Regions from separate parts of the Homo sapiens genome. Here region 1 is linked to region 2. Evidence: fine-mapped expression QTL. Tissue or cell type: sigmoid colon. Region 2 holds a variant in brackets; the other region holds the start of a gene. All regions are shown on one strand. Distances are between the middles of the regions.

Region 1 (4,382 bases), 240 kb after region 2:
AAAGTTATTTCTGCCTCTGTTCATACTGTGTTCACAAGTTACAGGGCTTTGTAGGCCTTTCCACATATTTTTTATTTTTATTTTATTTATTTATTTTTTTTTTTTTGAGACGGAGTCTCGCTCTGTCGCCCAGGCGGGACTGCGGACTGCAGTGGCGCAATCTCGGCTCACTGCAAGCTCCGCTTCCCGGGTTCACGCCATTCTCCTGCCTCAGCCTCCCGAGTAGCTGGGACTACAGGCGCCCGCCACCGCGCCCGGCTAATTTTTTTTTGTATTTTTAGTAGAGACAGGGTTTCACCTTGTTAGCCAGGATGGTCTCGATCTCCTGACCTCATGATCCACCCGCCTCGGCCTCCCAAAGTGCTGGGATTACAGGCGTGAGCCACCGCGCCCGGCCTCCACATATTTTTTAAAATTCCCATAATTCAAGGCATGCTTAGGTACTCCCTTTCTTTCTAGCTCACCTCTCTCCTGTCTATAATTTCTTATATTTATTGTGTAGATGTATATACCATTTAGTATCATGTCAGGTAATTCTTTGCAGTTCTATAATTTCTGTACTTTTTACAAGGTGCTTTTTTTTTTTTTTTTTTGAGTCTCAGTCTGTCGCCCTGGCTGGAGTGCAGTGGTGCGACCTTGGCTCACTGCAACCTTCACCTCCCGGCTTCAAGCGATTCTCATGCCTATAGTCTCTCAAGTAGCTAGGATTATAGGTATGCGCCACCACACCCAGCTCATTTTTGTATTTTTAGTAGAGATAGGGTTTCACCATGTCAGCCAGGCTGGTCTTGAACTCCTGGTCTCAAGTGAGCCACCGGCCTCAGCCTCTCAAAGTGTTGGGATTACAGGCATGAGCCACCACACCTGGCCTACAAGGTACCTGTATATGCTTTAGCTTTTTTGAACCTCATGATACTGACGTAGATATGGCAGATATTATTTTCATTTCATAGGAAAATAAACAGATTCCAAGAAATTAGGGGACTATTGATACCTATGTGGTTAGTGAGTTGTGAGGCTATTTTTAGATCTGAGCTCTTTTGAATTTTTTAAGGCAGTGTGGCCTACAGGAAGAGCAGGGCCTTGGAAGCCTAGATATGTCTGTGGTAATGGTGAGGGGTAGTAGAAAGCACAGAGGGCTCTGGGTCAGGTTGTTTCCAGTTTTGGCTCTACTCCTCACAGTCTGTGTGTCTTCAGGGAAGTTGCTCAGTTCTCAAAGACTCAGTTGCCTTGTCAGCATCATCCCTGGCCAACCTCTCAATGGGGTTATTGTAATGTCTATATATGATGACATTGTTCTTAGCTAACTTTTATTTAGCACTTATTAAATACCAGGCGGTGTCCTGGATGCTTTGTTTGGATTATCTCAGCTAATCCTCACGATACCTCTCTGAGATATGTTCTTTGTTACTTCCCTATGACGGATGAGGAAATTGAGGCATAGAGATGTTAAGTAACTAGACCAAGTTTATGTAGCTACCAAGTGATAAAGCCAGGAAAGTAGCCTGAGTCTAGAACCAGTACTCAACCATGGTTCTATAAAATGTCTTTTTTTAAGGTGTCCTATAGACTGTAAAGTGCTCCGAACATGTGAGGTCCAGGCTGCAAGGATGTGCCTGGCCCTGCCCACCTGTGTAATGGCGAATAGGGAAAGGAGGGGGCGACATGGAGATTTTGCAGGGAGGAGAGAGATTATTTCCTAGGGGGTCTGGCCAGGACTGAAGATTTGGAATTGTGTTTTGGGGCCATATTTCTGAATGTTGGCTGTCATTCTCCTGTTGGGCTACCTGGCCTATCTTAAGAGGGTAGAGCGGGGTAAAGTCACTGTTCTGCCAGTGAAGTAAGCCCAGTGCAGAAAAGACAGGCGTCCCTAGGCCCAAGGGAACTAGATCCATACCATACTCAGTGGAGCCATAGGTCAGACCCCAGGCCAACCTTGTTGGCTGTGTAGGGGCAGGGACCCTGGTCTTTTGGTTTCTAGCCCATGATAGATGGGCCAGTGAATGAAAGCAGTGTGGTAACATAGTCCCTTGGAGACCTCTCATTAGAATGCATAATCTCATTAAATTAAACAATTCTAATTATAAAAGTAATACATGGTTACTGAAGAATTTTTGTGAAATACAAAAGCGTAGAAAATAAACCATTTCATTGGGTCTGAGATGCTAGGAGGCAAGGCCAAGAGTACAAGGGGCAGATGACTGAGGTGGACTGGGCCTTGTGCTACAAGAAGAAAGAAGGGCTCTCTGCTTTTGACTACTGCCTTTAGTAATCCAGTTGAGTCTGATACTCTTGTGTTTTACAACCTGGCCCCTTATAACAACCATAAAGGGTGAAGGGTGACTATGGCAACCTTTGCCAGCCTTGTGGGAGGGGGCTAGGGTACTTGGCTTGCTTTGCTATGTGTGTGAAGTTGCCTTCATTACTGCCCTTCTCTTGCTGCCTCCTGGGCAGGGCCTGCCTCCTCTGGCTCAGTGTGAGATTGAAATCCAGGCCCTACTCACATGAATTTGGACCCTGAGTCCAGAGTTTAGAGAGGGGAGGGAGAGAGAAGAGCACCAGAAAGGTAGATGAGAGACCCTTATTTTGGCTGTGTGGAGGCTCTAGGCAGCTGATCGCTTTGAAGTGTCACTTGATGCTTATGGGCCTGCTGAGGCCTTACATCCTGGGGGAGAGGGGAACAGTGATGGTGAGTGGGTACAGACTAGGAGGACGTGTCAAGACTGCTTCCAGCCCTAGGACAGTGTATTCAAGAGTTGAGTGCTGAGGGTCTGTGGCGTATGCCCAGCCCTTAGTTTCTGGCCCACGTGAAGCAGGGGGGCACTAGGACCCAGAGGCTAGCACGGTTCCTGACAAGTCTAGAGCAGCACTAGCGCAGAGTGAGACTCATCAGCTGGCAAGCAGGATTCTGTGTCTCTGGGTTCAGGAATCCTCAGGCAGCAGAGGGGACTTGCTCCTCAGCCCCCATCACTGCCCCCACCCCTACCCGTGTAGGCCACCGAGTGAGGCCCATGGACTGGGGAGGGCTGTGCCTGACGACTCCTGTGTCCCTCTATGAGGGCCCAGCGCCCTGACCCTCCTGCCTAGGTTTCTACCTTTTCTCTCTGTCTTTGGCCAGCTGGGGGAGGGGGTAGAGGCCGGGTGAGCAACATGGCACAGAGCAAGAGGCACGTGTACAGCCGGGTAAGTGGCCCTAATCTGGGATGGCCCTGGAGGGCTGCTGGGGAAGGCCTGGCTGCCTGTGGACATCATTGCTGTGGGGGCTGGGGAGATAGGCTGGAGCTCAGCTGAGGGCACTCAGACTGTGTTTTCTAAGGAGCCCTCGAAGCCCTGGTGGTGTAAGGCTGGACAGGCTTCCCTTTACAGAGTTGATCCCTAAATGGGGACTAGCAAGGCCTGACCTCTGACTCTAATTGGCCCTCATACCAGGGGCTCCTGAGGGGGTCCAGACTATCCTGGGGACTCAGAATGGGGATGATGGCTCAGAGAGGTCTTACAGTGAAGCCTTTCTTAAGAGCTGCTTTGTTATTTGTTACTTGCTTTCTTTCTCTTCTGAGATAGAATCTGTAGCTACTGTTGTGGCCCCCTGGTTCTGAGAGGCTTATTGGGGTTGGAAAGTGGGGGAGTCTCTGACTTTGGGTTCAGCCTTTTATATCACTGGCAATTCCTTTTATTGTCAGGTCCATGAGAGCCATCCTGCTGTTCCAGGTGTGATTTGGGGTCCTGGAGCCTCTGGGAACTACATCCTCACCTTCCTGGATGAGCTGTTTGGGGAAGGGAATTAGGCAGTGATAGGCTGGGAGGTGTCCTGGCTCTTCCCTGGCTCTGCCAGGGCTCCCTTCTGAAGCTATTATAAATGAGAGTATCAGAAGGGTCTCCCATAGAGTCTTTAGGATGATGGTATCACTTCATCATGCCTCATTCATCTGTTTGCTGCAAGGCCCCTGGTTCATGGAGTTGCTGTTGCTAAAAATGACCTAAGTGTGATTTTCTTCTAAACCATGGGCCTATTTGGGACCTAATTTTCTATTGTGTTCAGTCATCATGGGTGTGCCGAAGCTAAGAGCTGCCCAAGGACAGTGTCTTAGTCTGTTGTTTTGCCTTGCCCATCTGTGGAGTGATAAACCATTCATTTGGACCACTGAGCAGAGTCTTGGGGACAGAGCGAGGGGTAGATCCACCCAATTTACTTGGCCTGTGTTTTCCTTTTTATAGCAACATAGCATGGAGAAGAATCTCCAGAGCTTGGGGATAGAGAGTTGACCAAACAAGACTCAGGCCAGGTAGAAGGGGAGTTGAATGGTTGAATGGGCTGTGGTGAAGCATCTGGGGTTTCATGGTGGGTTTGTGGATGGGGGTGGGAGGAGTCAGATCAGGAAGGA
Region 2 (4,397 bases):
CTGGGTGACAAAGCAAGATCCTATCTCAAAAAAAAAAAAAAAAAAAACTGAAATATAGCTTAACATATTAAACTATGATAATAGATTACCTATAAGATATAAGGGAATTTATATGGTACCCTAGGGCTAAGGGAGAGATCCTAAGGAAAGTCAAACTTGAAAGGGGGACTCCCTTCCCGAGGCTGGGGTTCACACCAAATTGCAGAATGTGTATTTGTAACCCACTGGATGGCAGAGTTCACTAGTTTGTCAAGGCTAAAGTTGGTCTGCAGTTCCTGGGAAAGCAGGAAGCTACTCTCCAGTGATAGGTGAGCTACAGTGGTGGCTGGGCTTACAGGCATGCAGAGAGAGTGTAGGCAGGATGCCCAGAATACGTATTCTCCATGTTGGAAGAGCAGTAGCATTGAGATGGCCACAGGAGACAAACTTCTCACGGGGAGGAACAAGTAAGCAAAGGGAATTAGGCATTAGTACAGGCAGGAGGCCTGAATCATATGGTGTCCATGTTGAAAGGGCTGCAGAAAGGCGATTACTAGGCCAGGCAGGGCTATGAAGTCACTGAAAGACTATGAATTCTGAATGCATGGATGGGTCACCATTAGGTGTCCCTATACCCCACAGCTGACCCACAGTATGCTGCATGTAACAATAGGAGAGCCTCTTTATGTCCCTCCAGTGCCCTTTACTAAGAAAACTTAACATTGTGCTCACTGTAAAAGAGAAATGCTTAAAGGAATTTATCACAGAGCATGTACTGAAGGATGAATTTGGAGTTGAGAGGCAATAAATTAATAATTAATACACAGACCATGGGGAGAAAATAATAGGAATGGCTTTTCTAAGCATAATATAAAACCAAAAAATCTAAAAATAAAAGATTAATAATATATAAAAACAGAAAATGTATGCTTGGAAAAGAACACACATGCAAATTCTAAAGATAAATAGCTATGAGGAAAAATATTTGCTTCTCATATCATGTAGAGTTAATTTTCTACATACATAGAAAACTCCTACAACTCAGTAAGAAAAAAACATTCAATAACTCAGTAGAAAATGAGGATGGATATACACAGTCAGTTTTCAGAAAAGAAAATATAAATGACATTGAGACATGAAAATACATCAACCTCATTCATAGTAAGAGAAACCCAAATATGCAGAGATGTCACTTTCCACCTATATGATTGGCAAAAATTTTCTGTGACACATTTTCATGAGAATTTGAAGAAATAAGCATGCTTATATGCCATTTGTCAGTGTATAAATCGACATTATAGAGGGCAATTTGGTGACAGTATCACAATTTACATATCTTTTAAAGTAGCAAATTCACTTCTAGGACCTTATCCTACATATATATTTACACATGTACAAAAATAACTTAAGTACAAGATTATTCATTTTAGCACTGTTTGCAGTAACAAAAGATTGGAAACAAACTGAATGTCTGTAAATAGGGGATTGGTTACATAAAATCACGGTTCATCCATTAATGGAATACTCTATAATGATGTGAAATGATTGCTCAAATACAATAATCAACAAAAGCAAGATACAGAAAAGTATTGCCATCACTTCTATTTAGGGAAGAAAAATGATAGAATTACATATCCTTTTGAATTTCAAACCCTATGAATGTATGTATTCAAAACACATAAATATTAAAAATACATTTATGCTGATAAAATACCAATTTATATATAGGGAGTCTTTGTAAGATTTGATTTTTTATAAAGGGAATTCTGATTTTCTTTTTAAATATTTTTAATCCCCTCCCTAAACTGCATTCTGGTTTCTTGACCTGACCTCCAATGAAACATCAATCTAAGTTATCCTAACTGCCTAGGGCCATATTATCTATCTATAAGATAACCCAAAAAAGTTCATGTATGAAAGCCCAGAAATAGAATTCTTGAAGATTTTGTCAAGCCAAGGCATTTACATGATGTCCAACAAATATTAGCCATACTCAAGTGTTCTAGGTCAATAATATATGTCTACTGATTCCTGGAGTTTACCCAATTATTACCAATTTTTTATCCCTTATTTCTCTAACTTGACTTTCTGATAACCAACTAGAATGTGCCACAGCTTTACAGCCTCTGAAATCCTCTTCACCTTTACTTTAATGCTGGCTTATGCTGATCTAGCACTAGCCTGCTTATGCCTTTGTGACCAATCCCTCCAACAATGATATGAGTGTCAGCCTATTTCAAGACAACTCTATAGATAGATGATACACAGAGAAAAGACTTAAATTTTACATAAATGAGATAATACTATGCCTGCTGATTCCATTATCTAATTTTTTTTAATTAACAGTATATTGTAGGCCAGGTGTGGTGGCTCACGCCTATAATCCCAACACTTCGGGAGGCAAGTTGGGAGGATCGCTTGAGCGCATGAGTTCGAGACCAGCCTGGGCAACATAGCAAGACCTTGTCTCTACTAAAATTTTAAAAATTAGCCAGGTGTGGTGGTTCATGCCTGTAGTCCCAGCTACTCCAGAGGC[T/C]AAGGAGAGAGAATCGCTTGAGCCTGGGAGTTTGAGGCTGCAGTGAATCATGATCACGCCACTGTACTCCAGCCTGGGTGACAGAGCGAGACCCTGTCTCAAAAAAAATTAATTAGTTTAATTAAATAAAACATAAGTTAAACCAGTTTCAACCTTAGCTGCACATTAGATTTGCCTGAGGAAGTTTTAAAATATATCAGTGCGTGGAGCCCACCTGATAAAATTTAAATGTCTGAGGGTATGTCTCAATGCCTCAAACTCTCTCTCTCTCTTTTTTTTTTTTTTTATAGACAGAGTCTGGCTCTGTTACTCAGTCTAGAGTACAGTGGCACAATCTCAGCTTACTGTAACCTCCACCTCCTGGGCTCAAGCCATTCTCCCACCTCAAGTCCCAAGTAGCTGGAACTACAGGCACGGGTCACCATGCCTGGCTAATTTTTATATTTTTTTTAGAGACGGGGTTTCACTATGTTGCACAGGCTGGTCTTGAACTCTTGAGCTCAAGCAGTCTGTCCACCTCGGCCTCCCATAGTGCTGGGATTACAGGCGTGAGCCACTGCACCCAGCCCTTAAACATTATTTTACTCTCAATTATTACTGTTTTTAGGTATGCATATTAGAGATGACATACAGTGGAATTTTTCAATCTAGTCCAATAATTTGTTTTTTAGCTGGTATATTTTAGGAAGTAAGTTTGTATTTATTGTAATTACTGACCTTATTATTATTAAGATTATTCTGATTATCTTACTTGGTGTTTACTATTTGTCCTGCCTTTTCTTTGCTTGCTTCTCCCATTTACTATCTGATTTTGGGTTTGTTTTTTTTTTTTCCACTCTATTTTTTTTTAAAGTGTATAATCTATTTATTTTCTTTTAGGGGTTGCCCTAAATTAATTGGTATCTCTACCCTTCACTAAACAATACCTTAGAATGCTTTAACTCCGATCATCTCCCTCTCATCGTGCATATTTTTGCCCCTGTATTTTACCCCCAAATTAGACATTACTGCTATTGTTTTATACAGCTAATATTTATTTCATTTTACTCATATATTTACCAATTTATTTGCTTACCCTTCCTTCTTGCATATCAGACCATTTCTCTGTGATCAGTTACCCTCTCTCTTCCTTGAATTATATCCTTTAAATCAGCACCATTTACTAGATATGTAATGTGAGCCACACATATAATACAAATTTTTCTATTAGCCACCTTTAAAAATAGAAAAAAAAAAAAAAAAAAAAGCAGGCAATGGCCGGGCGCGGTGGCTCACGCCTGTAATCCCAACACTTTGGGAGGCCAAGGCGGGCAGATCACCTGTCAGGAATTTGAGACCAGCCTGCCCAACATGGCGAAACCCCGTCTCTACTAAAAATACAAAAAAAGCCAGGCATGGTGGCAGCCACCTATAATCCCAGCTACTCAGGAGGCTGAGGCAGGATAATCGCTTGAACTCGGGAGGCGGGGTTGCAGTGAGCCAAGATCGTGCCACTGCACTCCAGCCTGGGCAACAAGAGCAAAACTCTGTCTCAAAAAATAAAATAAAAAATAAACAGGCAAAACAAATTTTAATATTTTATTTGTCCTGACATATCCAAAATATCATTTCAGTATGTAATCAATATAAAAATTTATTGAATTTTTTATATTGTCTTTTTTTTTAATTTTGAGATGGAGTCCCACTGTGTGGCCCAGGCTGGAGTGCAGTGGCATGATCTCAGCTCACTGCATCCTCTGCCTCCCAGGTCTAAGTGATTCTTATGCCTCAGTCTCCCGAGTAGCTGGGATTACAGGTGTGCACCACCACACCCGGCTCATTTTTGTATTTTTTTTTTTTTTTTTAGTAGATGTGGGGTTTCACCATGTTGGCCAGGCTGGTC

Direction of the effects. Positions count from the first base shown, and alleles are read on the strand shown. Sizes are in standard deviations (SD) of each study's normalised expression.
As copies of C replace T in region 2, the expression in sigmoid colon of the gene that starts at base 2,877 in region 1 goes down (moderate effect, 0.74 SD a copy in GTEx).

The links. PIP is the estimated chance that this variant, and not a neighbour inherited with it, causes the effect. A credible set is the group of variants that fine-mapping cannot tell apart.
Region 1: DCTN1 starts here. The variant in region 2 is the best candidate, but not a certain one, in a credible set for the expression of DCTN1 in sigmoid colon (GTEx, PIP 0.55).

Annotation. Positions count from the first base shown.
Region 1 is chr2:74,378,806-74,383,187 of GRCh38, reverse strand. It overlaps DCTN1 (dynactin subunit 1), which reads left to right and starts at 2,877. Exons shown (of 32, transcript NM_004082.5): 1 at 2,877-3,183. The coding sequence starts at 3,151. RefSeq lists an enhancer at 2,565-3,076.
Region 2 is chr2:74,621,908-74,626,304 of GRCh38, reverse strand. The region is part of intron 2 of M1AP (meiosis 1 associated protein); the gene reads left to right. Among named protein-coding and RNA genes, the nearest start is that of M1AP, 24 kb to the left of the region's middle. The variant T/C (reference allele first, on the strand shown) is at 2,516.